Regions from separate parts of the Homo sapiens genome. Here regions 2, 3 and 4 are each linked to region 1. Evidence: fine-mapped expression QTL. A gene starts in region 1. Each other region holds a variant in brackets. All regions are shown on one strand. Distances are from middle to middle.

What was found. PIP is the estimated chance that this variant, and not a neighbour inherited with it, causes the effect.
Region 2: its variant is fine-mapped to the expression of SENP7 in whole blood (INTERVAL, PIP 0.96).
Region 3: its variant is fine-mapped to the expression of SENP7 in cerebellum (GTEx, PIP 0.94).
Region 4: its variant is fine-mapped to the expression of SENP7 in whole blood (INTERVAL, PIP 0.99).

Annotation. Positions count from the first base shown.
Region 1 is chr3:101,508,998-101,517,106 of GRCh38, reverse strand. SENP7 (SUMO specific peptidase 7) reads left to right here and starts at 3,895. Exons shown (of 24, transcript NM_020654.5): 1 at 3,895-4,016. The coding sequence starts at 3,977.
Region 2 is chr3:101,552,260-101,560,368 of GRCh38, reverse strand. No RefSeq gene overlaps it. Among named protein-coding and RNA genes, the nearest start is that of TRMT10C, 5.6 kb to the left of the region's middle. RefSeq lists an enhancer at 3,748-4,360. The variant A/G (reference allele first, on the strand shown) is at 4,857.
Region 3 is chr3:101,299,983-101,308,091 of GRCh38, reverse strand. IMPG2 (interphotoreceptor matrix proteoglycan 2) reads left to right here. Exons shown (of 19, transcript NM_016247.4): 3 at 3,780-3,946. Among named protein-coding and RNA genes, the nearest start is that of IMPG2, 17 kb to the left of the region's middle. The variant G/T (reference allele first, on the strand shown) is at 3,091.
Region 4 is chr3:101,427,880-101,435,988 of GRCh38, reverse strand. All of the region lies in intron 4 of SENP7 (SUMO specific peptidase 7), which reads left to right. Among named protein-coding and RNA genes, the nearest start is that of SENP7, 81 kb to the left of the region's middle. The variant AG/G (reference allele first, on the strand shown) is at 4,480.

The DNA of each region.
Region 1 (8,109 bases):
AGGCGGAGGTTGCAGTGAGCTGAGATCGTGCTATTGCACTCCAGCCTGGGCAATAAGAGCAAAACTCAGTCTCCGGGAAAAAAAAAAAAAGGCATATTTTGAGGTGACATTCTGGTTTCCTTCAATAGTTTACCTTCAAGAATAAGATTGTTAGAGCTAGAAGGGACCTTATTGATATTCTTAGCTAACATGTTTATTTTATAAATGGAGAAGTTGAGGCTTTCAAAGGTAAAGTGGCATGCCCAAAGTAACTGAGGCAGCCCAGGAGCCTGAGAGAAGATTTTTTTTCCCCTTTTTTGACTTTTATTTTAGGGTCGGGGGAATGTGCAAATGTGTTACAAGGGTAAATTTTGTGTCACTGGGGTTTGGTATACAAATGATTTCATTACCCAGGTAGCGAGCATAGTATCTGATAGGTAGTTTTACAACGCTCACCCTCCTCCCACTCCAAGATTAGTTTTTACCAAAGATTTAAAAATGCATAGTATTTGACTTTTTATTTCATTCATTTACCAAAAATTTAGTGAGGCCATTTGGTAGGCACTTTGTTTCCTATGTCAAGTACTCCAGTCGTTTTACGCAGAATAAAATTTTAAAAAAGGAGAACAGCATATACGCATTAAAGAAAATTTGAAATTAGGCTTTTCCAGTATCCTGGATTAGGTGGTGACACAGCTGTAATGACTTGTTCTAGGTGTGGTTATTTCTTAAAAAACAATTGTGAAAATATACATAACAAAATTTACCATTCTAACCATTTTTAAGTGTGCAGTTCAGAGGCATTACGTACATTCATATTGTTGTGTAACCATTACTGACATCCATCCACAGAATGCTTTTCATCTTACAAAACTGTAACTCTATACCCATTAAACAATAACTCCCCATTCTCCTCATCCTAGGCACTAGCAACCACCATTCTACTTTCGATCTCTCTGAATTTGACTTCTCTAGGTTAGGTGTGATTATCTTTAAAGAAGAGGGTGGGTGGGACACCAGAATCATAGATGCAAATAACTTTAATTAGCGTATTTGGATTTTTAAGGAACCCCTTTCCTTTCTAGGATCAAAAGTGGTTACATTTAACAATATTTACATTTTTCACAGGTGATTAGTAAGCTTTTATAAGAAGTAATTTTATAATCTGAGAAGTTAGGAAATCCCCTGGTTACAGAGTAATAATCTAATACAGTAATTATAATCCTTTTTTATATTTAGGAACAAGGTCCTTTTGTATATACCATGCCATTAAGAAGCACAGAATGGAGAATACTTTTACTCAGAATATTTAAAAATATCTAATGATACTTTTTTTTTTTTACAACGAGTAAGTTTTCATTTATTTTCATATTTAGGAAAGCAAAACAAAACAAAAAACCTCTAGAAAATATGTTTGAAAGAAAGAATACTGTTTTGGTACAAAAGCAGCACTATTTTTCTTTTCCCAACACAGAAAGCAATTATGCAGTTTTTTAGAAAAATAATAATGCCTGTATTACAATTCCATTTAGTAAATTGTAGAAAATAATAGTGGTTGTGAAATTATATCTGTAGAAATTTCAAAATAAGATGAAAGTACATAATGTCCCTCCTCACTGTTCACCTCTCCCTAGGGAACAAAAAAGTTGTATTTAATCCACCAGAGGCAAGGACACATAGAAAAAAGAATATTAGAGATAGGAAAAAGAAAAAAGCAGATGTCACTAAGTGTTGGTTTTACCAAATTGGAGTATGCAACAGAATCGTCTGGGAAGTTTATTTTTTATGTTTTTTGGAGACAGGGTATCTGTGTGTCGCCCAGGCCGCAGTACCGTGTAGCGATCATAGCTCACTGCAGCCTCAAAGTCCTGGACTCAAGTAATCCTTAAATCTCATCTTCCCCAGTAGCCGGGGACTATAGGTGTGCTCCACCGTGCCCGGGTCATTTTTTTTTTTTTTTCCGAGACAGTCTGGCTCTGTCGCCCAGGCTGGAATGCAGTGGCCTGATCAAGGCTCACTGCAACTTTTAACTCCATGGGCTTAAGTGATCTTCCTGCCTTAGCCTCTTGAGTACCTGGGACTACAGGCATGCGCCACCACGTGTGGCTAGTTTTTTTCTTTGTAGAGAGGAGGTCTCACTATATTGCCCAGGCTGGTATCAAACTCCTGGGCTCAAGGGTGAGTCATAGCATCTGGCCTGTATATTTTTGTGGAGAGGGGGGTCTTGCTTTGTTGCCCAGGATGGTCTGGAATGTCTTGGCTCAATCTATTCTGCCTCGGCCTCCCAAAGTGCTGGGATTACAGACGCGAGCCACTGTGTCCGGCCCAGCTTGACTTTAGAATCAGTTAAGTTCTTTAGTTAAAAAAGTTAATTTGGGCCAGGCGCAGTGGCTCACGCCTGTAATCCCAGCACTCTGGGAGGCTGAGGCGGGCGGATCACGAGGTCAGGAGATCGAGACCATGCTGGCTAACATGGTGAAACCCCATCTCTACTAAAAAATACAAAAAATTAGCCGGGCGTGGTGGCGGGCGCCTGTAGTCTCAGCTACTCGGGAGGCTGAGGCAGGAGAATGGCGTGAACCCAGGAGGTGAAGCTTGCAGCGAGCCGAGATTGTGCCACTGCACTCCAGCCTGGGCGACAGAGCGAGACTCCGTCTCAAAAAAAAAAAAAAGTTAATTTGTGAGGAAACTGAAAATTCAATTATTTTTCAGAAAGCAATGTTTTTGTTAAACAGAAATTAACCAAATAAAACGAAATCCTTACAGTAAACTTCAATCCCAGCAAGACTTAAAGTATTTCTGCTTTGCAGTCATTCCTGCCATGTAGAACACTTCCCCAGGCCCAACACCCCACAACACCTGGGGCCTTACCTCTACCTGGGGACTGACCACATTATAATTAAGAAGGCTTAACTCACGATGAAGGGGACTGCTCTAGTGGACGAGTTGGGCCGATCCCTTTATTGACTCCGTTAGGATGGGAGATGGGGGTTGGAGGGATAGGCGTTAGGGGTATAAAGGGGCCAGCTTGGGAATCAAACCCTACTTCCAGAGTCCCTTCGGGCTTTGAACATGCCAGAAACATTTTCCCTGCTTAGAGCACTGTGCTGAATTTTGTTAAACTTGTGATTAAATCGTCATGAAAGCTTACACGTGCATTTAAAAATTATTCAGATATGCACCATTAGGGATAATCAGGCTAATAGTACCAGACCTTGAGTTCATTGAGGACTGGATTAGTCCCTTAAGTATCGTGGTAAATGTTAATTGAACAAATTCCAAGTTTATAGCCACCCACTTTCTGTCATATCAGCATTTCAGTTATTGAAAAATTAAGTTCTAGCTTTTCTTTTAAGGAACTTTAAAAATCACAAGTTCGAATTTTAAAAAGGAATCCTAAGACATTTTTCCTCGTCTGCTGACATATTTCCACAGCAAATGCTAAACTAATAGCTAGGCTATTATTAGGTGATTTTGCCATCTTAAAATCTTTTGGTTTCTGAGTTCGAGGAAAGGCGTTGGGGGCAAATATGTAAGAGAGGCTGTGAGGGATGTAATACTGCAAACGCTAACGTTTTGTTTTCATAGTTGTTTGGCCACCTCGCGAGATCCAGTGAACCGGAGGAGTTCCTGTTTTTCCCTTTTAATTTTTGTCAATCTAATCTTCAAAGTCAACAAAGCTAAAATCGAGCACCCAGGTGGTTCACCTCCCCAGAGGGGCTCAGATCATGAAATAAACGCCACCAAAAAAACGCTGGAAGAGGCAGCCCACAGTGAAAAGTCCCAGGAAGTGATTTCCGGTCGAAGGTGGGAGGGGCGGCTGATTTCCGGTCGAAGGGCAGGCGACGGCTCTTGCGCAAGCGCGCTTCGCACTTTGCGGGCTTTTTTTTTTTTTTTTTTTTTTTTTTTTTTTTCCTTTCCCCTCCCCCTCCCTCTCCAAGCCGGAGGGGTCCTGAGGTGACAGCGCCTGCAACTGAAATTTCAGCAGCGGGAGAAGATGGACAAGAGAAAGCTCGGGCGACGGCCATCTTCATCCGGTGAGAAAGGGTCAGAGAAGGGCTGAACATATTGTCTCCTACCCGGGGGAAACGGGAGGCGCAGGCGGCAGCTGGGGTTGCGGCCCGAAGCCGCGGGGGCGAGGGCGGGGGCGGGGAGAGGAAGGGGCGCGCACAATGGAAGGCTCCCGGGTCGCCCCCGCCCCTGGAGTCGAAGACCCGGTCCGAGCTGTCATCGAAGCCTCGGGCGCTCTTCACCTCAAAACCCCTTTTATTTTTTCCCTCCTCCCGCGAACACCCTCCTTGCGTCTCATCGGCCCATGGATCTTCCCGGTTGGCTTGTCACTCTCTGCCACGCCTTCCTCGTAATTCCACCAATGTTCCAATTTCATTTCGGCTTCTCAGCGCCTGACCCCACTTTCCTCTCTTCCTTTGATTCTCGACTTTGCGTCCCTTCCCCTCTCCCTCCTCTTTCCCTCAGCAGGTAGCTGCTGCTGGGGAGGAAAGGTGGGGCTTGCGACCGGAGACTCCTTTTCTTTGATACAATGCCTCTCCGGGTCTCGTTCTGCTGAACAGGCCCGCCTAATAGCCTTTTTCTTTTCCAGCCTACCCTGCGTCTTCCAAAAGTGATTGGAAAGTCAAACAAAGGATTTGAAGCCGTGCTTTCGTTGTGTTTTTATTTTCAGCATATTTTTTGTTTTGGACGTTACTTTGTTTTAAATGACTATCTTCAGTTTTGTGTACAACGTCTTGGAAACAAGAAAGTGGAGTTATAAAAACGTGAGGTAGAGCTCCTCCCAGTTGAGAAGTTTTTATCAAACATTTCATCCATTAGGGGGTCCTCAAGTCCTTGTGTTAAGTCCTATGGATGGTAGGAGGAGAGGACGAGGACTCATATGCTTACAGTCCAGTACACAAACGAACGCCCAATGAATCAATTATTTCATTTCATTTTTCTGTTTCTGATGGTACCGTTGGTTTCTGCAGAGACAGTTAACAATTACAGATTTATTGGCCGGGCGCGGTGGCTCACGCCTGTAATGCCAACACCTTGGGAGGCCGAGGCGGTCGGATCACAAAGTCAGGAGATCGAGACCATCCTGGCTAACATTGTGAAACCCCGTCTCTACTAAAAAATGCAAAAAATTAGCCGGGCGTGGTGGCGGGCGCCTGTAGTCCCAGCTACTCAGGAGGCTGAGGCAGGAGAATGGCGTGAACCCGGGAGGCGGAGCTTGCAGTGAGCCGAGATCGCACCACTGCACTCCAGCCTGGGCAACAGAGCGAGACTCTGTATCAAACAACAACAACAACAAAAAAAAAACAAAAAAAACCAATTCCAAATTTATTTAGGAGTGCCCTGTGGCAGTGCATCTCAAACTGCTTTCAGCCTTAATTGCAAAGGAGAGTGATTATGGATCTCTGGGGACACTGCTTGAAGCAGTTGAAAACCTGAAATCCCTTTTCATATGCAACCAATGTTATCGATGTTCTTGGTGTATATTCTGGAGATAATAGTTTTTTCCTTTGAAAGCACATGTATAAATGATATATATGTATATTTATACATACATGTAGGTATATGCCTCCAACTGATGAGTGTTTTAATAGTCTCCACCCCCCACCAAACCTCTAAGTAAAATGGACACATTAGGAAAACGCACAATGCTTAGCTGGTGTCATTTGCGGGCTTCCTAACACAGAACTTTAGGTGTGATCATATCTTCCTTTGAGATGCACAACCTTTTTTAAATAAATGCATTTCATCTAGGTTTAATACATTTTTGAGGAGGGAAGGTAAGATATTTGCCTTGTAATTCAACAAGTCACGTTCCTTTTTACCTGATTACACTTAGATTTATTTATTTGTCACAGTAACTTGATGTAAGTAGTTGTGGGAAGTGGATTTTGATAATAAAGCTGTTAATCCTTAAAAGACATTGATATTTACGTTAGTTATATCTCTAGAGAGCGTTTTCTTTTTCTCGTGATCTCTCTTTTGGAGCTGTCCTTTCTGAAAAGTAAGGTATAATAAAATCCATACCCAAATCTAATGTTACCTAGCTGTTCTCCAGTATGCCTCTAGTTTTAAGATGTGCACTAATTAATTTTTAAGTATGCTTCTGCTTTTCTTAATAGCGTATATTTAATTTCCTGAATAAATTCTCAGAAATAAAACATTGGCTGGTTGAAAGATTCCGTGTAGTGGTTGTAGGCATGCAGTTGCCATTTCATTGTAAGTTGTTGCTAACTGGAACCCAAATGAAGTGACTTTTTTTTTTTTTTTTTTTTGAGATGGAGTCTCGCTCTGTTGCCCAGGCTGGAGCGCAGTGGCACAATCTACCACCCCTGCCTCCCAGGTTCAAGCGATTCTTCTGCCTCAGCCTCCCTAGCAGCTGAGATTACAGGTGCCTGTCACCATGCCCGGTTAATTTTTGTACTTTTAGTAAAGATGGGGTTTCACAATGTTGGCCAGGCTGGTCTCAAACTCCTGAGCTCAGGTGATCCACTTGCCTCGGCCTCCCAAAGTGCTGGAATTACAGGCGTGAGCCACCGTGCCCGGCCATGAAGTGACATTTATAGTCATCAAAGTTTCCTAAGTATGCAGAAGAGTTTGATTAATAAAACAGGAAGAAGAGGTAGAAGGAAGGTGGGTAGCAGTAGAAAGATAAAATAAAACACAAAATTTGAAGTTTTATCTGTGAGACTACATTAGGCTGCCCTAAACTTTCTGCTAAACAAGGAAGAACTGTAAAATGTTCACAGTGTACCGCTCAAAACTTTTTCAGTTGCAAGTAGCAGAAACCCAATTCCAGATGGTTTAAGCTAAACACATGTATTTGTAACTCATGTAACTGATAACTATACCATTTAAAGCAGTATATTAGATGGTGATACACATTAAAAAACGGCTGGCATCAGAGACAGGTTCACTGAAGTTGAATGATAAAGTGTCTGGGAGCAAGGGAGAATGACCATTAAAAGTGTTAAACAACAAAAATACAGCACAGATAAATTAGAATCATAGACTGCAATTTTCAAGTGAATTTTTGAATCAAAATAGGAAACGTCAAGTAAATTTGAACCAGTTTTCAACTGATTGCTTCAGGCAACATTCTTGGAGGCCTGTGTCACTCTCATTTGTAGTTAAGGATAACGTATGTTCTTTAAGTACTTAGGCACTAGACATTGTGCTAAGAACTTCACAAACTTCAATATTTTCAAAAGCCTTATAAGGTAATTGTTTTTCATTTACAGATGAGAAAACCGGGATTTAGGGGCAGGATAAAGATTAGTAATAGCTAGTAAGGAACAGAATTCAAAATGTGGTCTCTAATTACAAAATCTATAGTTTTAACTTCATTTACTGCTACTAGTGTCCCTGATGGTATAACTTTCTTAAATCTTTCAGTAGGTCCAGGTGATGTTTGCTTTGCATTGAAAGTGTAATGAATGATAATTGAAGCTCAAGATGAGAACTTAACGATTAGTTATGATAAAGCTGCATTATTTGCAGCAATCTTAGTTGAAGTCATTGGAATGAATGGAATTGCCCACAAAAAATAGTATAGAGTGAGGAAGGTCTTAAATCACATACAACTAATTTCAAAGTGCGGAGGAAGAGATATTACTAAGCAGTTAGATAGGCTGATTAGGATTGTGACAGGTTCGGGAAGAAAGGGAGGAGAGTAAAAAAAATGTTAGCCTTTCAGAGAGTTAAAGTAGCATGAGGGTACTGGATTTGGCAATTAGGAGGCTACTTTTACTGATGGTAAGAGTGGTTAGTAGACTAGTAGACAAAAGCCAGATTTCAACAGGCTAGAGGAATGAGTGGCAGTGAGGAAATGGGGCAGCAAAAGTAAGCTGGGAAAATGAGATGGGAAGGAAATATTTCTAGAACAAGCTTGAGTAGGAAATTAGGTAGAAAGGCTTGTTTTTTTTAGGAATATGAGAGACTTAAATCAGGTTGGTAGGGAGTGGGAAAGGGGTGGAGAGGGAAAGATTGAATATATATCAGGTAGGAGATAATGGAGTGAGGTCCCAGAAGAAATGGGAGAGAGGGATGACATCAAAGAACAGTTTGGTGAGATATAGGGAAAGGAGAAAAGATGGATAAAGATATAGACAGATCTTGAGA
Region 2 (8,109 bases), 43 kb before region 1:
CATGTTAGAAAGGTGAGGTGGTGATAGCAAAATAATCATGAGTTTACTCCCAAACATGGAAAAAAATCAAGAATAAATATCGTCTAGTAGTTATAACAAATAGCAGTGTAGAGGTTATTTTTTCTTGTTCCTGTTCTTTAAAGAGATACATCTGAAGTTTTTCCATTAATATTTTATGAAGGTTTTTGCTATATGATCTTTGTCAAGTAAAGGAAATTTCATTCTGTTAAGTTTACTAAGATTCTTTATGTGAAAAATCTTTGGAAGTGTTTCTATAAATATAGCAGAACATAATTTATTCAATATGTCTGGGATCTGACCTATTCTAGATTAAGAATATTTCCAGGTTTCAGACATCTTACCTCCAACAAAAAGCACAGTGATTTTCAAAATACGTTTTTTTGTTTTTTTTTTTTGAGACGGAGTCTCGCTCTTTCACCCAGGCCAGAGTGCAGTGGCGCGATCTCGGCTCATTGCAAGCTCCGCCTCCCGGGTTTACGCCATTCTCCTGCCTCAGCCCCCGAGTGGCTGGGACTACAGGCGCCCGCCACCGCGCCCGGCTAATTTTTTGTATTTTTAGTAGAGACAGGGTTTCACCGTGTTAGCCAGGATGGTCTCGATCTCCTGACCTCGTGATCCGCCCGCCTCGGACTCCCACAGTGCTGGGATTACAGGCGTGAGCCACCGCGCCCGGCCTCAAAATACATGTTTTGGCATAGAAAAATAGCTTGTAATATGGGATGTAAGGTATCAAAAAAATAAAAAATAAATTGTAGGCCAGGAGCAGTGGCTCATGCCTATAATCAGCATTTTGGGAGGCCAAGGCAGGCAGATTGCTTGGGCTCAAGAGTTCCAGACCAGCCTGGCCAACGTGGTGAAACCCTCTCTCTACAAAAAATACACAAAAAAAGAAAAGAAAAAGAAATAAATTTTAAAAGCAAGGAAATATATAAAAACCCATAAGACAATGTCACATAAACACTAGAATTGAAAAACTAGAAGGTCTGAATGCTCTCTCTTGGCTCATATTTCTTCTTGGAAACAATGGTTAGACCTAAATAAAGGCTGTTTTGTAGTCAAGGCACCCACTCTCCAGTTCCCCAGAGCTTATTCCACCACATGTTATCTTTTCTACACTGGTGCAAATGTCATTTGCCATGTATTTTGCCTGCACTGTTTATTATATAATAGAGAACGATTTCTCTATACCAACGTCTCTTTCAAGAGTTGGAAGACAAAGCATGGATTCAAAGATTTAGGTGTTACTTACAAAGTAGAGAACTCTTGTATTTGATTCTCTGCTCTACCTTCAATGTCTACAACAGTGCTTGGCAAGTATCGGAAACTCAATAATAATTTGCTGATGAATGAATACTAAATAGATCAGGTAAGTGATGTTAGTGGCTTGGACAACAGTGGTGGCAGTAAAGGCAAAGAAAAGGGGGAATATTTGAAAGATATTTAAGAGCTGGACATGACAGAATTTGGTGATCAATTTGGGAGAGAAGGAGAGGAACAAGTCAATAGTCTGGTTTGAGCACCTGGGCAGACAGTGAAAAGGAGTATATGGTGTGAGGGCAGAGATGGTAAGTATAGTGTTAGACATGCGGCTTTTCATCTCTCTTCAAAATAGCCAAATGATATCTCCTTTAGGATATTTGGCAGTTGGCTGTATGGGTCTAGAGTTTAGGTGAAAGAAGAATGCACCAAAGATACATATTTGAGAGTTATTAACATAGAGTCTGTGAAACCATATGGGTGGAAGAGATTACCTAGGGCTTGGGTAGAGAACAGGAATGGACAAAAGAAACTGAAAATAAGCAGCTAAAGAGATGGGAGGAAAACAACCAGAATATGACATAGAAATCAAGGAAAAGGTGTTTTCAAAGACAAGTGGATGGGTAACAGGGTCAAATATTGCCTAGAGATCATGCAATGCAGACTGAAAAGTATCTACTAGATTTAGCAATACAAGGGCCACTGGGACCTTCATTGTGAGGTTTGGGGGCTTTAGCCAGATGAGAGTGAATAAGGAATGAGGAGATTATGAGAAAATAGAATCAGCAAGTTTAAACATTTCTATGAAATTTGTCTAAAGAAAAGACAGCGTGCTCAGTCCCTGGATGTGGAGTCCAGGAAAATTTTCTTCATTATTATTATGTTAGATTGGGAGAGGCCTGACATTTTAAATGCTGTTAGAATCATCAGCAAAGGGGTAAGAGAAAGAAAGGATAATGGGATGGGTAGACTTCCTGAGAAGATTAACAGAGATGGTATATAGAGGAGAGATGCTATTTAGAGGAGAGATGGAGAGATTGGTTTCGTATAAGAGGAAGAAATACCACTTTCATTGTAACAAGAAGAAAGGAAGAAACTTAAGGTGGGTATGGAGGACAATTTATAGACATGATGGCTATAATTTGATACAGTTCGCATTCTCTGTGAAAGAGGTAGACAGACTACCTCTGCGGATACTAAAGATTGGGTGAAGGTTTGTTATTGTCATAAAGAATAACATATAACAAATGTACAGAAACAGAAAGTAGAATGGTTGTTACTGTGGAGTCCTAATTAGGGAAAAGGAGTCAGGCTGGCGGGACCAGAGGAAAGCAAAGAGATAAAGCAAATAAGCTATAAATATGCCTGTCTTCACGGTTCAGGACATATAAACAAAAAAGGAAGAGGATGAATTATAGGTCTGTTTTTCTTTATGCCCAAGGACATATTGCCCAATACATATGGCCCTCCTACTCAGATAATGTACGTAACTCAAAAACTTACTGCTTACCAACAAACGCCTCAATTTATCAAACATCTCAGCTGACAAAAGAAAGCAAGTTATGCTGCCAGTGCATTGGCATTATCAATCAGCCCAAGTTCTATGTTATAAAATCTCCAGCTAATCTTTGTCTCTTTGCAGTCGGCTCCTCTTTTGCAGCCTTCCGGTTGCTTTATTGCAATGTATTTTCCTACTTTCTTTCTCTCTCTCTCTTTTTTTTTTTTTTTGAGAGGGAGTCTCGCTCTGACACCAGGCTGGAGTGCAGTGGTGCGATCTCAGCTCACTGCAACCTCCGCCTCCTGGATTCAAGCGATTCTCCTGCCTCAGCCTCCCGAGTAGCTGGGGCTACAATCATGCGCCACCACGCCCAGCTAATTTTTGTATTTTTAGTAGAGACGGGGTTTCACCATGTTTGCCAGAATGGTCTCAATTTCTTGACCTTGTGATCTGCCTGCCTCAGCCTCCCAAAGTGCTGGGATTACAGGCGTGAGCCGTGCCTGGCTTTTCCTACTTTCTTTAATAAATTTGCCTTTCTTTACAAGCGTTTTTGGTAAATTCTTTTACTCCAGAGCCACCGGCCCAGATAGTTGTCCCTGCCACCCCCTGTGACAGTTACCAGGAATGGTGGAGTTGTTTAATGAGTTTCAGATATGCAAGATGAAAAAGTCCTGGAGATCTGTTGCATAGCAATGTAAATATAGTTAACACTACTGAACTGCACACTCAAAAAATGGTTAAGATGGTAAAGAAAGAAGTATGAGTTGACTAGTGAGACAGCCATGATATCAGGCAGTGCTAATAGTCTAGTTCAGTTTGGGGATCATGAATTTATAGTGATACCAATCTGTGTTACGTGATCTTTCTCCCTATTTTGCTAATGCTGCTAAGGGCTAAGATGGCTGGGTAAAACTCAGTTTACAGAAGGGGAGTGGTGTAAAGTTGTTAAATATTTTGGTATAGGGGAAGAAATATGACTATCTATCTTCCCTTCATGAGTTCTTAGCTGAGACTCTCTGTAACAAAAGACAGATTGAACAAGAGAAAAACAAGTTTAATAACTTGTATACCTCTTGTATGCATGGGAGATAACCCAGAGAGATGAGTAAATCTTAAAAAATAAAAATTAACAAAAAAAGATTTTAAACTTCAGGGTTGAATATTATCATTTTCTGAAAACAACAACAACAACAACAACAACAAAGAAGGATGTGGAGACAGATTCAGTTAAGTTGAGATGACCAGCAAAATTACCTTAAACGGAGATAAGGTTTGTTATGCAGATTTCAGGTGATTCTGCCTTGATTGTTTAAGAGTCTCTAGTGATTTAGGGCCAGACTGGTGGCTCATGTCTGTAATGCCAGCACTTTGGGAGGATGCGGTGGGCTGATCACCTGAGCTCAGGAATTTGAGACCAGCCTGGCCAACATGGCAAAGCCCCATCTCCACTAAAAATACAAAAAAAAAAAAAAAAAGATTAGCTAGACGTGGTGGTGCATGCCTGTAGTCCCAGCTACTTAGGGGACTGAGGCAGGAGAATTGCTTGAACCCAGGAGGCAGACATCATGCCACTGCACTCCAGCCTGGGCAACAGAGTGAGACTTCATGTCAAAAAAACAAAAAGTGTATCTAGTGATTTAATAATCAGTGTCTTCTTGGTGCAGAGAGGGAGACATCCTTATCAATGGAGATTTCCTTTATTGAGATAAAAGGACAACTTTTCATAGCTGCTTCTGTGTCTGCAGCTTCCCAGAATAACTAGATCAGAATAATCAATATGTCAAAGAGGCATATTTTAGGGTGATGTGTTCTAGTCTCCTATGGTCATATTTTGGGTTGGTGTATCCTGAGCCCCATCATCAGCATCAGAGTGGCTGCAGGAGTGGTCTGTAGAGTCTATAGGAGATCAAAATATACCATCCCCAAAAATGTCTCTCTGGTGTAAGGATTATTTTGAGCTGAAGACAATTAATAAAAAGCAGACATAACATGAGCTCTCTGCCCTCTCCTATCTGCCTGAGAGTAAAACATACATTTCCTCTTGTGAAGGTGTTCCTCCCACCACTCACACACTTAATGA[A/G]GTTGTTGTCACGGGGTTAGCAAGAATAATGGACAGAAATACAATTATAATTAAGCATTAATCAAGCTGCACTTTGACTCACTTCCTCATAACCAAAAGTTACATAGCACCAGATTTGCATCCCCATTGTTCCTATAAATAGAATTTCTGATGTTAAAATCATAAAGTTTTTAAGATAGGTAGGAGCTCTGATATTAGAATCATAAGAATTTTATTTAAAAAGTGCTTGGCCAGGCATGATGGCTCACCCCTATAATCCCAGCGTTTTAGGAAGCTGAAGCAGGAGGATCACTTGAGTCCAGGAGTTTGAGACCACCCTGGGCAACATAATGAGATTCTGTCTCTATAGGAACTAAAAAAAATTAGCTGGGCATGGTGGTGCATGCTTGTAGTCCTGTTACTGTTGGAAGGTATCTGAGTTACCGGCAGCAGCGACTTTGTATGGGTCTGCAGCAACTTCAATTCTTGTCTCCTCAGAAGAAAGATTTCAACTGAGGAGCAGAAGGCAGAAGAAGAGACAGAGGTGAGTTTCAGAGCAGGAGTGGAAGTTTATTTTAAAGGCTTTAGAACAGGAAAGAAGGAAAATTCACTTGGACGAGATCCAAGTGGGCACCTGAAGGTCAAGTGTGGTGTTTAATCTTGATCCTAGGACTTTATAGGTGTGTTAGTCTGTTTTCATGCTGCTGATAAAGACATACCTGAGACTGGGCAATTTACAGAAGAAAGAGGTTTAATGGGCTTACAGTTCCATGTGGCTGGGGAGGCCTCACAATCATGGCAGAAGGCAAAAGTCACTTCTTACATGGTGGCAGCAAGAGAGAGCTTGTGCAGAGAAACTCCCATTTTTAAAACCATCAGATCTCATGAGACCCATTCACTATCATGAGAACAGCGTAGGAAAGACCCACCCCCATGATTTGATCATCTCCCACCATGTCTCTCCCACAAGTGGGAATTATGGGAACTACAAGATGAGATTTGGGTGGGGTCACAGAGCCAAACCATATCATTCTGCTCCTGGCCCTTTCCAAATCTCTGATCTTCACATTTCAAAACCAATCATGCCTTCCCAACAGTCCCCCAAAGCCTTAACTCATCTCAGCATTAACTCAAAAGTCCACAGTCCAAAGTCTTATCCAAGACAAGGCAAGTTCCTTCTGCCTATGAGCCTGTAAAATCAAAAGCAAGTTAGTTATTTCCTAGATACAATGGCGGTACTGGCATTGGGTAAATACAGCCATTCCAAATGGGAGAAATTGGCCAAAACGAAGGGGCTATAGGGCCCCTGCAAGTCCAAAATCCAGCAGGGCGGTCAAATCTGAAAGCTCCAAAATCATCTCCTTTGACTCCATGTCTCACATCCAGGTCATGCTGATGCAAGAGGTGGGTTCCCATGGTCTTGGGCAGCTCCGCCCCTGTGGCTTTGCAGGGTAAAGCCTCCCTCCTGGCTGTCTTCACAGGGTGGCATTGAGTGTCTGCAGCATTCGAGATGCATGGTGCAAAGCTGGCAGTGGATCTACAATTCTGGGGTCTGGAAGACAGTGGCCCTCTTCTCATAGCTCCACTAGGCAGTACCCCAGTAGTAGGGACTCTGTTTGGGGGCTCCCACCCCACATTTCTCTTCTGCACTGCCCTAGCAGAGGTTCCATGAGGACCCCGCCCCACAGCAAACTTCTGCCTAGACATCCAGGCGTTTCCATACATCTTTTGAAATCTAGGCAGAAGCTCCCAAACCTCAATTCTTGACTTCCGTGCACTCGTAGGTTCAACACCACATGGAAGCTGCTAAGGCTTGAGGCTTGCACCCTTTGAAGCCATGGCCCAAGCTCTTTGTTTGCCCCTTTCAGCCATGGCTGGAGTGGCTGGGATGCAGAGCGTTAAGTCCCTAAGCTGCACACAGCAGGTGGACCCTGGGCCCAGCCCACAGAATCACTTTTTTCCTCCTAGGCCTCCGGCCTGTGATGGGAGGGGCTGCCACAAAGGTCTCTGACATGCCCTGGAGACATTTTCCCCATTGTCTTGGTGGTTAACATTCAGCTCCTCGTTACTTATGCAAGTTTCTGCAGCCAGCTTGAATTTCTCCTCAGAAAATAGGATTTTCTTTTCTATTGCATCATCAGGCTGCAAATTTTCTGAACTTTTATGCTTTGTTTCCCTTTTGAAACTGAACGCCTTTAACAGTATGCAAATAGCCTCTTGAATGCTTTGCTACTTAGAAATTTCTTCCACCAGATACCCTAAATCATCTCTCTCAAGTTCAAAGTTCCACAAATCTCTAGGGCAAGGGCAAAATGCTGCCAATCTGTTTGCTAAAACATAACAAGAGTCACCTTTGCTCCAGTTCCCAATAAGCTCCTCATCTCCATCTGAGACCACCTCAGCCTGGACCTTACTGTTCATGTCATTATCAGCATTTTTGTCAAAGCCATTCAACAAGTCTCTATGAAGTTGCAAACTTTCCCACATTTTCCTGTCTTCTTTTGAGCCCTCCAAACTGTTCCAGCCTCTGCCTATTACCCAGTTCCAAAGTCACTTCCACATTTTTGGGTATCTTTTCAGCAACACCCCACTCCACTGGTACTAATTTACCATTTTAGTCCATCTTCATGCTGCTGATAAAGACATACCCAAGACTGGGCAATTTACAGAAGAAAGAGGTTGAATGGGTTTACAGTTCCACGTGGCTGGGGAGGCCTCACAATCATGGCGGAAGGGGAAAGGCACTTCTTTTTTTTTTTTTTTTTTTTTTCATTTTGCCTTTAACCTTTATTCTACTATTTTTCTTTTTTTTTTGAGATGGAATCTCACTCTGTTGCCTAGGCCAGATGGAGTGCAGTAGCATGATCTCAGCGCACTGCAGCCTCTGCCTCCCGGGTTCAAGCAACTCTCCTGCTTCAGCCTCCTGAGTAGTGAGATTACAGGCATGCACCAAAACGCCCAGCTAATTTTTCTATCTTTAGTAGAGAGGGGGTTTCACCATGTTGGCCAGGCTGGTCTGGAACTCTTTTTTTTTTTTTTTTTTTTTTTTTAGTATTTATTGATCATTCTTGCGTGTTTCTCGGAGAGGGGGATGTGGCAGGGTCATAGGATAATAGTGGAGAGAAGGTCAGCAGATAAACACGTGAACAAAGGACTCTAGTTTTCCTAGGCAGAGGTCCCTGCAGCCTTCTGCAGTGTTTGTGTCCCTGGGTACTTGAGATTAGGGAGTGGTGATGACTCTTAAAGAGCATGCTGCCTTCAAGCATCTGTTTAA
Region 3 (8,109 bases), 210 kb after region 1:
CCCAAGACTGTGGGAGTCCACCTCTTACATCAGTGTGACATGGATGTGAGACATGGAGTCAGAAGAGATCATTTTGGAGCTTTAAGATTTCACTTAATTTTGGCCAATTTTGGCCAATTTCTCCCATTTGCAACAGGTGTATTTACCCAAAGTCTGTACCTCCGTTGTATCTAGGAAGGAACTAACTTGCTTTTGATTTTACAGGCTCATAGGTGGAAGGGACTTGCCTTGTCTCAGATGAGACTTTGGACTTGGACTTTTGGTTAATGCTGGAATGAGTTAAGACTTTGGGAGACTGTTGGAAAGGCATGGTTGTGTTTTGAAATGTGAGGACATGAGATTTGGGAGGGGCCGGGGCAGAATGATACAGTTTGCCTGTATCCCCACCCAAAATCTCATCTTGAATTTTAATCCGAATTGTAATCCTTATGTGTTGGAGGCAGGACCCTGTGGGAGATGATTAGATTATGGGAGTTGTTCCCCCATGCTGTTTTCATGATAATGAGCAAGTTCTCACATGATCTGATAGCTTTTTAAGGGGCTTTCCCCCACTTCACTCAACATTTCTTTCTCCTGTTGCCATGTGAAGAAGGATGTGTTTGCTTCCCTTCCACCATGATTGTAAGTTTCCTGAGGCCTCCCCACCCATGTGGAACTGTGAGTCAGTTAAATCTCTTTCCTTTATAAAGTACCCAGTCTTGGGCATTTCTTCATAGCAGCATGAGAATGGACTAATACAATAGGATTGGTGTATATTTTGTTATATAAGAAACAATTAACATTTATTTCAAAGTGGTTATACTATTATACATTCCTACCAAAAATGAGGCTTTTGGTTGCTCTGCATTTTTGCCAAATTTTGGTGTTGTCCATGTAAAAATTTCAGTCATTCTTGGTTTGTGTGTGGATACTTTAATTTGAATTTCTCTGAAAAATGAATGATGGTGAACAGTTTTTCACATACTCATTGGCTATTTTTATCTCTTCCTTTGTGAAGTATATATTCCAGCCTTTTACCTATTGTAAAAATTAGGTTGTTTGTTTTTTTGTTAGGGAGTTGTAGGAATTATTTCAGTGCCCTAAATACCAGTTCTTTGGCAGATATATGTATTTGGAATATTTTCTGCCAGATATGTGGTTTGCCTACTCATTTTTATTAACAGTATCTTTTGATAATCAGACACTTTTTAGTTTTGATGAATTCTAATTTATTGTTTTTTTCTTTCATAATTGTTGCTTTCTGTGTACTGCCTATAAAATCTTTGTCTATCCTCAAGTGATGTAGATATTCTTCTATGTTTTATTTTAGAAACTTCATAGTATTAGCCCTAATATTTCAAATCATTTTTTGTGTATAGTATGAAGAAGGCATTGAGATTTATTTTTTCTTTCCCTATGGGTAGATAGTTATTTTTTTCAAACATTGTTTTATACTTTCTCTGAATCACTTCATTTCATTACCAGACATTATAGACATTCACTTTTTGTTAGTTTTTACTGACCCAGACTTTTCACCTTTGCATTGTCTTTTGGAATTTACTTTAATTTTCATTTCGAAGTTTTAAGAAGAAGAAATGAAAAACAATGATCTACAAATAGTTCAGCTCTGCCTCAGTCAGTGCCCGCTGTATGCTGTATGGTCAGAAGTTCTTAATAACAATAATAAGGATACAGGTAGTTCACTAAAAGACAAATTAAGTTTGTAATGAAAGGTTTGGTTTAGCCCTAAAACCCAATTGATAGAGAAACTTTCAATACTCATACATTTCATAATCTGTTAAAGCTTAAGAATTTTTTTGGCTTAGACTATCTTCTTCTACCAAATAACTATTGGACAATTAGAATTGAACACGATAATAACATATGATATTCATGTAGCACTTTGCAATTTGTAAAATACTTTCACAGATAAGATAATAAGGCAGTAATTATTTATCCTGTTAAAAAGAGAGATGAGTCAATTGAAGCTTTGAATAGTTAGGTAAGTTACCCATGGTATCAAACTAGTATACTGGAAAGCTAGAGCGGGAACTTAGATCTTCTGACTGTGGGAGTCCAGAGGCTCCACCTCAATGTGGATCCTGCCTGATGTGTGTTCAATCTTCTTGCTATGAAAAATAGTTTTTTTAATCTCTGTTAAATCTAACTTTCTCTCTTACCACTCTCTTCCTTTTCCCTTCCATCCTGATGTATCTGTTACCTACAGTGTCCTGCGCCTCTGAAATGGTTACAGAACAGCAGTACATTCAGTACTATACAAAAAGCACAGAGATACTATTTAGCAGCCTTTCAGATTTGATGCTTTGGAATAACTTAGCAAATAAATTGATTAGTTTTTATTATAATACAGCAATATATTTCTCCTGAATATCATTTTAAAGTTCATGTGTATGTATGTATGTGTGTATATATATTTTTTTTTCTTAAATTAATAGGCTATATTTCTTAGAGCAGTTTTAGGTTTACAGAAAAATTGAGCAGTGTGTTTAGAGAGTTACCATGTATTCCCTCAACTCCCCCACCACTTTTCCCTGTTATTAACATTTTATAATATTGTGGCATATGTGTTACAATTTATGTGCCAATATTGACACATTATTCTTAACTGAAGTTCATAGTTAACATTAGGGTTCACTTTTTGTGTTGTACATTCTATGGGTTTTGACAAATGTATAACGACATGTATCCTCCATTATAGTATCATATGGAGTACTCTCACTGCCCTAAAAATCTGCTATGCTCCTCCTATTCATCCCTGTCTCCCTCAACCCCTGGAAACCACTGATCTTTTTACTGTCTCCATAGTTTTGCCTTTTCCAGAATGATATTGGAATCACCAGTATGCAGTCATTTCAGATTGGCTTCCTCTACTTAGCAATGTGCATTAAAGTTTTCTCCATGTCTTTTATGGCTTGAAAGTTCATTTCTGTTTATCATTGAATAATATTTTAGATATATCACAGTTTGTTCATCCTTTCACCTATTGAAGGACATCTTCATCACCCCCAAGTTTTGGCAATTATGAATAAAGCGACTTTAAATACCCGTATGCAGGTTTTTGTGTGAACATAAATTTTTATGTATAAAAAA[G/T]ATTATTATTTTCTGTTCTCAGATATGAAATATAGTAGTTTGAGAGTGATAATTTCAGGTGGATATCTTCTACTTGATTTTATGTAGTACTTTCTGCTTCCTGTAAGCTTTGAGGAAAAGTTTGAATACTCCTGTTTTTTTTTTTTATCAGAAATATGTGATGACTTTTTGAGCAAGTAGATGCAATGCAGTTATGTCACTGCATTTAGCCAAAAAGCTCCAGGCCATTTATAAACGTCAGTGTCTCCTTCCCCAGTGATCATGAAAAGCAAAGAAGCTGATTTTTGAAGTTATGATTTCAGGAGAACATCTGCAAACATTAAGGAAACTGAAAATCACAGTGTCCATTAGGAAAACATTGGATTAAATACAGTATACTCAATATCAGCTCCACTTTTGTGAAGTATAAACATGGACTTTTTTAAGAGATGGGAGAGACACTCCAGCTCATGAAGAGATGAATCAATTCTCTTTGTAAGAGAAAGGAATGGGAAATATAAATTCTCTTCAGAAATGAAAAGTTTAAACTGGACATACATACAGAAGGCCTTTGACTGAGAATCATTCCTACATCCCTCCAGAAAGGACACTTCAGTGTCTCAAGGAATCTGTACGAATCAGTCTATGATCATTGTAAGAACCCCAGAGCATGTTAGCTTTTTGTAAAAAAACACCTCTCTATTTTCTAGTGTGTCAGGAAGCTGTCTGGGAAGCCTTCAGGACTTTTTGGGATCGACTTCCTGGGCGTGAGGAATATCATTACTGGATGAATTTGTGTGAGGATGGAGTCACAAGTATATTTGAAATGGGCACAAATTTTAGTGAATCTGTGGAACATAGAAGCTTAATCATGAAGGTAAGTGTCACAACAAAGGAAGGGATTCCTGGACTATTGTAGGAGCATTTACACAGCTAAGGCCTAAAGGAAGCAAAAGCAAGTGGCAAATGCCTGTATTACTCTTTTGTTGAATTGGGCTATCTGAGTAAGCTGCCCTAGGGTGTGGCCTAGTCTTTTATTCCTAGCTCTGGCCTCTATAATATACATTATTAATATTTTCATGTTATTCTGTCCACAAAAAGAAAAAGAAGACATTATTAACTCAGACAAGAGCCTCAGCCTTGTTTATAGATGTAAATATTTGGAAATAATATTCAGCAAAGGTTTAGGTTAAGAATATAAATCCGTGAGAGTCAAACATTTTTGCCAAAGTTTTACATGTTATCAACTCAGAGTGAATAGCAATAACTCTAATTAAGATAGAGGACATAGTTCATTTGAATAAATGTTTAGTGAGGCATAGGTATGATTCTAATAATGAGTGTGCTCACTTGTTTTCCTTGTTTTAGACATTGTTTTACTCTTAGCAAAGGATAAATAAACATGCATAAAGACAAATTACCTGCCACTTTTCCCTTTTCGTGTAGCACATATGTATTCATGACAAGAAAGTGAAACTGTCCAGACGTACGTGGCAAATTGTTCATGCTGTTTGTTATTCCGTATATCTCCCTGTCCATCTATTCAGTTCCTCTGTGTCCTCATATGTAACTTCCCTTGCAAGGAACCAAACCTCAGCCTAGAAGATTTAGCTACCATTATTCTTCGAGCTCCCACAATTCTTTATTCATTTTTAATACTGTACTGTTTATATTTTATGATGATTGCTTGTATATGTGACTAATTCCTCTTCTAGACTATGAGTCAAAAGGCAAGGATTATGTCATTGTTTGTTCATTTTTGCATTCCCATAAGGTAGTAAATATGCAATAGATGTTTGTTTAAATGAGTATATGAGCAATAACCACATTGTATTTTTTTACTTGGTACAATTTATAAACTTTATGAAGATTATTTTAAGTACTGGTTCTAAGTATTACATACCTTACAGAGACTGAGGAAATAATTATTGACTGAATAACACTGAGCTATTTTGTGTATAATCAAATCAGATTAGTATATCGTAAAGGTAATAAAATATATTATCCTATTCTATTTTTAAATTTTATTTATAGTAGAAGAATTATATTCTTTTAACATTTAGTCCAAGAGAGGAATGATCTTATTAAATGGGGGACGTTGGGGAGAGAAGGATGGTTTGATAAACGTGGGTGGACCAAAGACAAATTTTGCGAGGGTATAAATGTTTTGAAGCTGTGCAGGGTTTTGTGTGTTTTAAAATGAACGCAACTTTTAATCATGGCACCTCACATTTTAATGAAACGTATTGCATGTGTTTTTTGCCTGCCACATTTTTAACTGCTCAGTATTAATAACTATGTTGATAGCTACTATTTATTCAGTATCTACCATGTACCATGTCATGTATCAAGCTCATCAATAAATTATTAGATGTTATAACAGCAACCTTATAAGGAGGTGGTAATGTCCCCATTTTACAGATATGGACATATAATTATTAAATTCTTTATTCTATAACATAAAACCAGATATGATGGAGCTTAAATCCAAACCCAGTTCTCTTTTCCAAAATTGATGTCTTTTCCCTTCACACCATTGGGCCTCCTTTCTCAATCATTACCAATTTTACAAATTGCAGTGGCTAACATGGGATAGCTATTTAATGGAAAATATATAGACATACACACACATATACATACTTATATTTCTAATTGCATTGCCTATCTTAATTATGTCCGCAATATAGGATCAGCCATTAGTGTGGCAAATATATATGATGGGTTAGTATTACCAGAAGAACAGAATCTTCTGATGTTACCTTGGAATGTATCTCTTACAAGTGGAACTTTTAGTAAATTTATATTTGAAGGCATAGAAAATATACTTCCAATAATTATTTAATAGAAAAAGCAGATGAAGGGAATGATGTGTTGCCTAGATAGAGTTGTAAATGATAAGTACAAGTTACTTAAATGAAGAAGAGCTGGGGATAAACATTCTAGGCAGAAAGGACAGCACGAGCCAAGTGTTTGTAGGGAATGACCTCGGTCAATATACCAAAGAGGTAGACTAGGAATGACAGGAGATCAGACTAAAACAATGGATAACTGAACAAGCTTGGATTTAACTCTGTAGATCGCAGGAAACCATTGAAGGGTTGTAGGTAGGTAAGTTGCAGGAGCTGATTTGGCAGTTTTGAATTTTAAAAAGGTCGTTACGGTTTCTACATAGCATAGGATGGATTATAGGAGATAAAACTGGAACAGAGAGACAAGGTAGGGTGTTGCATCAGTACTCCAGGCCAAAGAGGATAAAGATACCAACCAGACCATGAGATAGACAAAGGAAACTTGAGAGATGTAAATAGGAACAAAATTAGTAGGACACTGATGGGTCGAGACAGGGTGAAGGAATGGCCCAAGAAGCCTTCCAGTTTCTGGCTTGGGTAACTAAGACCAATAACGAGGGCAAAGAAGCAGCTTTGTAGATGTGGCAGGGAGAATGAGTTCACTTTTGATGTATTCATTTGAACCACCTGTGTGAAATGTGAATTGTTTGCTATTTGGGTATGAAGCCAAGGATAGGGGTCTGGGATGCCAATGTTGCTATAGGAATCACCATTTTGGACTTAGTGCGGGCATACTTTATTTTATTGTGCTGCCCTTTATTGTGCTTCACAGATACTGCATTTTTTACAAATCAAAGGTTTATGACAACCCTGTGTCAAGCAAGTCTGTTAGTACCATTCTTCCAACAGCATGTGCTCACTTTGTGTCTCTGTCTCACATTTTGGTAATTCTCAAAATATTCGAAATTTTAAAAAATTATTTTCTTTATCTCTTATGTGATCTGTGATCAGTGATCTTTGATTATTACAATTACAATAACTATTGTAATTGTTGTGGAGTGCCATGAACAATATCCATGTAAGACAACAAGCTTAATTGATAAATGTTGTTTGTGTTTCAACAACTCCACCGACTGACTTTTCCTTGGTCTCTCAGGCCTCAAGCCGTCTCCTCAGGCCTCCCTATTCCCTGAGTTACAGCAATATTGAGATTAGGCCAGTTAATAACCCGACAATGGCTTCTAAGTGTTCAAGTGAAAAGAAGAATAGCATGTCTCTCACTTTAAATCAAAAGTTAGAAATGATTAAGTATAGTGAGGAAAGTATGTCAAAAACTGAGATAGGCCTTAAGCTAGGTCTCTTGCACCAAATAGTTAGCTAAGTTGTGAACGCAAAGGAAAAGTTCTTGAAAGAAATTAAAAGTGGGGGGCGGGGCCAAGATGGCCAACTAGAAGCAGTGGCAATCTGTGGCTCCATCTAAAAGAACCATAACAGCATGTGAATCCTGCACTGGCAGCCAAGGTATCCAGGTTTTGTCATCAGAACTGACTAGGCAACTGGCGTGACCCACGGAGAGGAAGGAAGAGCAGTGTGGTGCCGCAGCCCCCAGCCAAGGGAGGCAGTGAGTGAGCCTGCTACCCAGCCTGGGAAAACGTGCTTTTTCCACGGAACTGTGCAACCCACAGATCAGAAGATCTCACTTGGGAGCCCATACCTCCGGGGCCTAGGGTCCCAACCACAGAACCAAGCAGATTTTCAACAGCCACTAAGCTAGAATCTGCTTAAGCCTGCGGAGCTCCCCGCGGGAGGGGCAACCAGCACCACCGCTGTGGCTGCCTGCTGTCTAAGCCCTTTGAACTCCTTTGCAGGAGGGGCTACAGCCAACACTGGGACTGATAGCTGCCTAACACACTAAGCTCCCAGGGTGGGGGAAGGGTGGCAGCCATCTCTATAGCTCCAGGCCATGTCTTTCCCCTGCTGGAGCCAGGGAGGCTGGACGGCTTGCTCCCAAGAGGTATACCCCACAGTCCAACACACTAGCTGTGGCAGACTGCGGACAGAGCGCCTCTTCAGGCCGGACCTTGACATGTCCCTGCTCACTGGGTGGGGCCTCCTTGCAGGAACTCCAACAACTCCATCCAGGGACTTAGGGACAGACTCTAATCTTCCTGGGCTTGAGCCTCTAGAGGGAGGGGTGGCCACAGTCTCTGCGGACGGGTAGATTTAGTCTTCCCTCCTGGTAGTGCTGAGG
Region 4 (8,109 bases), 81 kb after region 1:
TGTTCTTTTTGCTCAAGATAGCTTTGCCTATTCTGGGTCTTTTGTGGTTCCATATAAATTTTAGGATTAGTTTTTCTATTTCTGTGAAGAATGTCACTGGTGTTTTGATGGGGATTGCATTGAATCTGTAGATTGCTTTGGGTGGTATGGAGATTTTAACAATATTGATTCTTTCAATCTATGAACATGGAGTAATTTTCTATTTTTTAGTGTTCTCATATTTCTTAATAATTGTTTTATAGTTTTTATTGTAGAGATCTTTCCCTTCTTTGGTTAATTCCTAGGTAATTTTATATGTGGCTATTATTGTAAATGAGATTACTTTTTAATTTTTTTTCGTGTTTTTTGCTGTTGGCATACAGAAATGCTGCTGACTTTTGTATGTTGATTTTGTGTCCTGCAACTTTACTGAATTTGTTTATCAGTTCTAATAGTTTTTTCATGGAGTCTGTAGGTTTTTCCAAACATTGGATCATGTCATCAGCAAACGAGTAATTTGACTTCTTCCTTTGCAATTTGGATGCCCTTTATATCTTTCTGTTATCTGATTGCTCTAGCTAGGACTTCCAATACTATGTTAAATAACAGTGGTGACAGTAGACATCCTTGTTGTGTTCTAGATCTTAAGGGAAAGGCTTTCAGTGTTTCCCTATTTAGTATGATACTAGCTAGGATACTAACTATGATAGCTAGTGGGTCTGTCATATATGGCTTTTATTATGTGAGGCATGTTCCTTTTATTCTCAGTTTTTTTTTTATTATGAAGAACTGTTGAATTTTATCAAATGGTTTTTCAGCATGAACAGAAATGACCATATGATTTTTATCCTTCATTCTGTTGATATGATGAATCATGTTGATTGATTTTTGTAAGTTGAACCATCTTTGCATCATAGGGATAAATCCCACATGGTTATGATGAATGAGCTGTCTAATGTATTGTTGAATTTGGTTTGCTAGTATTTTGTTGAGGATTTTTGCATCAGTGTTCATCAGAGATGCTGGCCTGTAGTTTTCTTTTTTTGATGTTTCTTTGTTTGGTTTTGGTGTTAGGGTAATACTGGACTTGTAGAATGAGTTTGGAAGTATTCCCTCCTCCTCTCTTTTTCAGAATAGTTTGAGTAGGATTGGCATTTGTTCTTATTTAAATGTTTGGTAGAATTTAGCAGTGAACCCATTGGGTCCCGGGCTTTCCTTTACTGGGAGACTTTTAATTACAGCTTTGATCTCATTGCTTGCTATTGGTCTGTTCAGATTTTGGATTTCTTCGTGGTTCAATCTTGTTAGATTGTATGTATTCAGAAATTTGTCCATTTCTTCTAGATTTTCCAATTTATTGGCATATAATTGCTCATTGTAGCCACTAATGATCCTCTGAATTTCTGTAGTATCAGTTGTAATGCCTCCTTTTTAATTTCTGATTTTGTTTGTATTTTCTCTTTTTGTTTTTCTTTAGGTTGGCTAAAGGTTGGTCAATTTTGTTTTAACTTTTGAAAAAACCAACTTTTTGTTTCATTAATCTTTTGTATTTTTAAAATTTCAATTTCATTTGTTTTTTTCTCTCTTTATTTTTTCTCTTCTAATTTTGGGTTTGGTTTGCTCTTGCTATTTTAGTTTTTTAAGATGCATCATTAGATAGTTTATTTGAAGTTTTTTTCTTTTTTTTGATGTATGCATTTAAAACTATAAACTTTCCTCTGAATATTACTTTTTCTGTATCCTATAGGTTTTGCTGTATTGTGTTTCCAATATCATTTGTTTCAAGAAATTTTTCAGTTTTCTTTCTTAATGTCTTCATTGGCCCATTGGCCATTCAGGAACATATTGTTTTATTTCCATATATTTGTATAGTATCTAAAATTCCTCTTGTTATTGATTTCTAATTTTCCTTTGTGGTCAGAGAAGATGCTTCATATTATTTCAGTTTTTTGGAAAGTTTTAAGACTCGTTTATTGACCTAACATATGGTCTGTCCTTAAGAATGGTCTATGTGCTGAGGAAAAGAATGTATTCTGCAGCTGTTGGATGAAATGGCCTATAAATGTGTATTAGATCCATTTGGTCTATAGTGTGGATTAAGTCTGATGTTTGTTTGTTTGTTTGTTTGTTTGTTGATTTTCTGTCTGGAAGATCTGTCCAGTGCTGAAAGTGGGGTGCTGAAGTCTCCAGCTATTATTTTATTGAGGTCTATCTCTCACTTTAGCTCTAATATTATTTCCTTGGTATATCTGGGTGCTCCAGGGTTGGGTGACTATATATTTTAAATTGTTATATCCTCTTGCTGAATTGACCTCTTTATCATTATATAGTGACCCATTTGTCTCTTCTTATCATTTTAGTCTTGAGATCTGTTTTGTCTCATAGAAGTATAGTGACTCCTGTTCTTTTTTGGTTTTCATTGGAATGGAGTACATTTTTCTATCCCTTTATTTTTAGTTTATGTGTGTCTTTATAGGTGAAGTGTGTTTCTTTTAGGCAACAGATCAATGGGTTTTTCATCCATTCAGCCAGTCTGTGTTTTTAAGTTGGAGAATTTAGTCCATTTATATTCAATGTTATTATTGATAAGTAAGAACTTATTTCCTGCCATTTTGTTAATTGTTTTCTGATTGTTTTGTGGTCTTCTCTTTCTTGTTTTTTTTTTTCCTTTTTTTTTTCCTTCCTGTCTTCCTCTAGTGAAGGTGATTTTTAATATGATTTGGTTTAATGCTTTTTATTTTTTGTGTATCCATTGTATGTTTTTTGGTTTGAGGTTACCATGAGGCTTGAAAATACTATCTTATTACCCTTTATGTTAACCCGATAACAACACTATTTGCATAAACAACAAGCAAAATAAAAATTAATAAAAACTCTATGCCTTAACTTTGTCTCCCTGCTTTTTAACTTTTTTGTTGCTTCTATTTATATCTTTATTGTATTGACTGTCTTGAAAAGTTATTGTAGTTATTATTTTTGGTTGGTTTATCCTGTAGTCTTTCTACGTAGGATAAGAGTAGTTTACACACCACAGTTACAGTGTTATGATATTCTTTCTTTTTCTATGTACTTATTACCAGTGAGTTTTGTAGCTTCCAGTGATTATTTTCCTTGGTGATGTTGATGCTAGTAGATGTTCTTCATTGTCTGGGCATTGAAGAGTTAGGTTTTTATTGTAGTCTTCTCTATCTGTGCTTACTTGTAGCCATCCTTTTTGGGAAGGCTTTTCAGATATTTGAAAGGAGCTGGGTGTTATGCTCTAAGCTTTAGGGTGCACCCCAACTCAGTAATGCTGTGATTCTTACAGACTCATAGAGATACTGTCTTGATAGTCTTGTACAAGAACTGGGAGAATTCTCTGGATTACCAGGCAGAGACTCTTGTTCTTTTCCCTTACTTTCTACCAAACATACAGTCTCTATTCCAAGCCACCTAAAGATGGGGGTGGAGTGACTCAAGCACCCCTGTGGCCACCAGCATTGTGACTGTGCTGGGTCAGACCTGAAGCCAGCACAGCCTGGGTCTCTCCCAAGACCTGCTGTCACTACTCCCTGGCTACTGCCTATGTTTGCTTAAGGGTCCAGGGCTCTATGATCAGCAAGTGGCAAAGCCAGCCAGGCCTGTGTTCTTCCCTTCAGGATGGCAAGATCTCCCAAGCCCTTGGTCAGTCCAGAAGTGCTGTCCGGGAGTCAGGGACTGGAGTCAAAAACCTTAGAAGTCTACCTAGTGTTCTATTGTATTATGGTTGAGCTGGCACTCAAATGACAAGATGCAGTCCTCCCCACTCTTCCCTCACTTTCCCAAAAGCAGAAGAGCCTCACCCCATAGCCATTGCTATCCCAGGCCACAAGGAGTATGGCCAGACTACCTACAATTTCCCTTAAGGCCCGAAATCTCTTAAGATGGCTTGTTGTGAATGCTGCCTGGCCTGGGACTCAACCTTTAGGGCAGTGAGCTCCCCTCTGCTCCAGGTCAGGTCCAAAAGTGCCATCATAGGGTCACGTCCTGGAATTAGGGACCCCAAGAGCCTCTTTGGTGCTCTACTCCGCTGTGGCCATGCTGGTACCAAAGGTGCAAGACAAAATCCCCTTTTAATTTCAAAGAATAAGATAACTCCTTTTCTTTCAAAAACTGCTTCTTTAGTATTTGGCCAGTTGTCAAGTAACAAATGCATGTGCTGGAAAGGTAGAGTCTAAGGCAGACCTCAGGGATGGATGATTTTTTTTGAGACGAAGTCTGGCTCTGTCCGCCAGGCTGGAGTGCAATGGCGCAATCTTGGTGCACTGCAACCTCTGCCTCCCGGGTTCAAGCGATTCTCCTTCCTCAGCCTCCCGAGTAGCTAGGACTACAGACCCACGCCACCACACCCAGCTAATTTTTGTATTTTTAGTCGAGACAGGGTTTCACCATGTTGGCCAGGATGGTCTCGATCTCTTGACCTCAAGTGATGTAGGAAGATCTACCAGGCAAATGGAAAGCAAAAAAAAAAAAAAAAAAAAA[AG/G]CAGGGGTTGCAATCATAATCTCTGATAAAACAGACTTTAAACCAACCAAGATCAGAAAAACCAAAGAAGGGCATTACATAATGGTAAAGGGATCAATGCAACAAGAAGAGCTAACTATCCTAAATATATATGCACCTACTACAGGACCACCCAGATTCATAAAGCAAGTTCTTAGAGACCTACAAAGAGACTTAGACTCCCAAACAATAATAGTGGGAGACTTTAACACCCTACTGTTAATATTAGACAGATCAATGAGACAGAAGGTTAACAAGGATATCCAGGACTTGAACTCAGCTCTGGACCAAGCAGACCTAATAGACATCTAAAGAACTCTTCACCCCAAATCAACAGAATATACATTCTTCTCAGCACCACATTGCACCTATTCCAAAATTGACCACATAATTGGAAGTAAAACACTCCTCAGCAAATGTAAAAGAACAGAAATCACAACAAACTGTCTCTCAGACCACAGTTCAATCAAATTAGAACTCAGGATTAAGAAACCCGCTCATACTGCACAACTACATGGAAACTGAGCAACCTGCTCCTGAATGACTGCTGGGTAAATAACGAAATGAAGGCAGAAATAAAGATGTTCTTTAAAACCAATGAGAACAAAGGCACAACATACCAGAATCTCTGGGACACATTTAAAGCAGTGTGTAGAGGGAAATTTATAGCACTAAATGTCAAGAGAAAGCAGGAAAGATCTAAAATCGACACCCTAACATCAAAATTAAAAGAACTACAGAAGGAAGAGCAAACAAATTCAAAAGCTAGAAGAAGGCGAGAAATAGATCAGAGCAGAACTGAAGGAGATGGAGACACAAAAAACCCTTCAAAAAATCAGTGAATCCAGGAGCTGGTTTTTTTGAAAAGATCAACAAAATAGATAAACCAATAGCCAGACTAATAAAGAAGAAAAGAGCAAAGAATCAAATAAATGCAATAAAAAATGATAAAGGGGATATCACCACCGATCCCACAGAAATACAAACTACCATCAGAGAATACTATAAACACTTCTATGCAAATAAACTAGAAAATCTAGAAGAAATGGATAAATTCCTGGACAAATATACCCTCCTAAGATTAAACCAGGAAGAAATTGAATCTCTGAATAGACCAATAACAGGCTCTGAAATTGAGGCAATAACTAATAGCCTGCCAACCAAAAAAAGTCTAGAACCAGATGGATTCACAGCTGAATTCTATCAGAAATACAAAGAAGAGCTGGTACCATTCCTTCTGAAACTATTCCAATCGATAGAAAAAGAGGAAAATCTCCCTAACTCATTTTATGAGGCCAGCATCATCCTGATACCAAAACCTGGCAGAGACACAACAAAAAAAGAAAATTTTAGGCCAATATCTCTGATGAACATCGATATGAAAATCCTCAATAAAATATGGGCAAACCGAATCCAGCAGCACATCAAAAAACTTATCCACCATGATCAAGTATGCTTCATCACTGGGATGCAAAGCTGGTTCAACATACACAAATCAATAAACGTAATCCATCACATAAACAGAACCAACGACAAAAACCACATGATTATCTCAATAGATGCAGAAAAGGCCTTTGACAAAATTCAGCCCTTCATGCTAAAAACTCTCAGTAAACTAGGTATCGATGGAACATATCTCAAAATAATAAGAGCTATTTATGACAAACCCACAGCCAATATCATACTGAATGGGCAAAAACTGGAAGCATTCCATTTGACAACTGGCGCAAGACAAGGATGCCCTCTCTTACTACTCCTATTCAACGTAGTATTGGAAGTTCTGGCCAGGGCAATCAGGCAAGAGAAAGAAATAAAGGGTGTTCAGATAGGAAGGGAGGAAGTCAAATTGTCTCTGTTTACAGATGGCATGATTGTATATTTAGGAAACCCCATCGTCTCAGCCCAAAATCTCCTTAAGCTGAGAAGCAACTTCAGCAAAGTCTCGGGATACAAAATCAATGTGCAAAAATCACAAGCATTCCTATACACCAATAACTGATAAACAGCCAAATCATGAGTGAATTCCCATTCACAATTGCTACAAAGAGAATAAAATACCTAGGAATCCAACTTACAAGGGATGTGAAGGACCTCTTCACGGAGAACTACAAACCACTACTCCAGGAAATAAAAGAGGACACAAACAAATGGAAAAACATTCCATGCTCATGGATAGGAAGAATCAGTATTGTGAAAGTGGCCATAATGCCCAAAGTAATTTATAGATTCAATGCTATCCCTATCAAGCTACCAATGACTTTCTTCACAGAATTGGAAAAAGAACTACTTTAAATTTCGTATGGAACCAAAAAAGAGCCCGCGTAGCCAAGACAATCCTAAGCCAAAAGAACAAAGCTGGAGGCATCATGCTACCTGACTTCAAACTATACTACAAGGCTACAGTAACCAAAACAGCATGGTACTGGTACCAAAACAGATAGATAGACCAATGGAACAGAACAGAGGCCTCAGAAATCACACCACACATCTACAACCATCAGATCTTTGACAAACCTGACAAAAACAAGCAATGGGGAAAGGATTCCCTATTTAATAAATGGTGTTGTGTAAACTGGCTAGCCATATGCAGGAAACTGAAATGACTCCTTCCTTAGACCTTATACAAAAATTAACTCAAGATGGATTAAAGACTTAACTGTAAGACCTAAAACCATAAAAACCCTAGAAGAAAACCTAGGCAATATCATTCAGGACATAGGCATGGGCAAAGATTTCATGACTAAAACACCAAAAGCAATGGCAACAAAAGCCAAAATTGACAAATGGGATCTAATTAAAGAGCTTCTGCACAGCAAAAGAAACTATCAGCTGAGTGAACAGGCAACCTATGGAATGGGAGAAAATTTTTGCAATCTGTCCATCTGACAAAGGGCTAATATCCAGAATCTACAAAGAATTTAAACAAATTTACAAGAAGAAAAAGAGAACCTCATCAAAAAGTAGGTGAAGGGTATGAACAGACACTTCTCAAAAGAAGACATTTACGCAGCCAACAAACTTCTGAAAAAAATTCTCATCATCACTGGTCATTAGAGAAATGCAAATTAAAACCATAATGAGATACCATCTCACGCCAGTTAGAATGGTGATCATTAAAAAGTCAGGAAACAGCAGATGCTGGAGAGGATATGGAGAAATAGGAACACTTTTACATTGTTGGTGGGAGTGTAAATTAGTTCAACCATTGTGGAAGACTGTGTGGTGACTCCTCAAGGATGTAAAACTAGAAATACCATTTGACCTAGCAATCCCATTACTGGGTATATACCCAAAGGATTATAGATCATTCTACTGTAAAGACACATGCACATGTATGTTTATTGCAGCACTATTCATAATAATAAAGTCTTGGAACCAACCCGAATGCCCATCAATGATAGACTGGATAAAGAAAACATGGCACATATACACCATGGAATACTATGCAGCCATAAAAAAGGATGATTTCATGTCCTTTGCCAGGACATGGATGAAACTGGAAACCATCATTCTCACAAAAGAAACACAAGAAGAGAAAACAAAACACTGCATGTTCTCACTCATAAGTGGGAGTTGAACAATGAGAACACATGGACACAGGGCAGGGAACA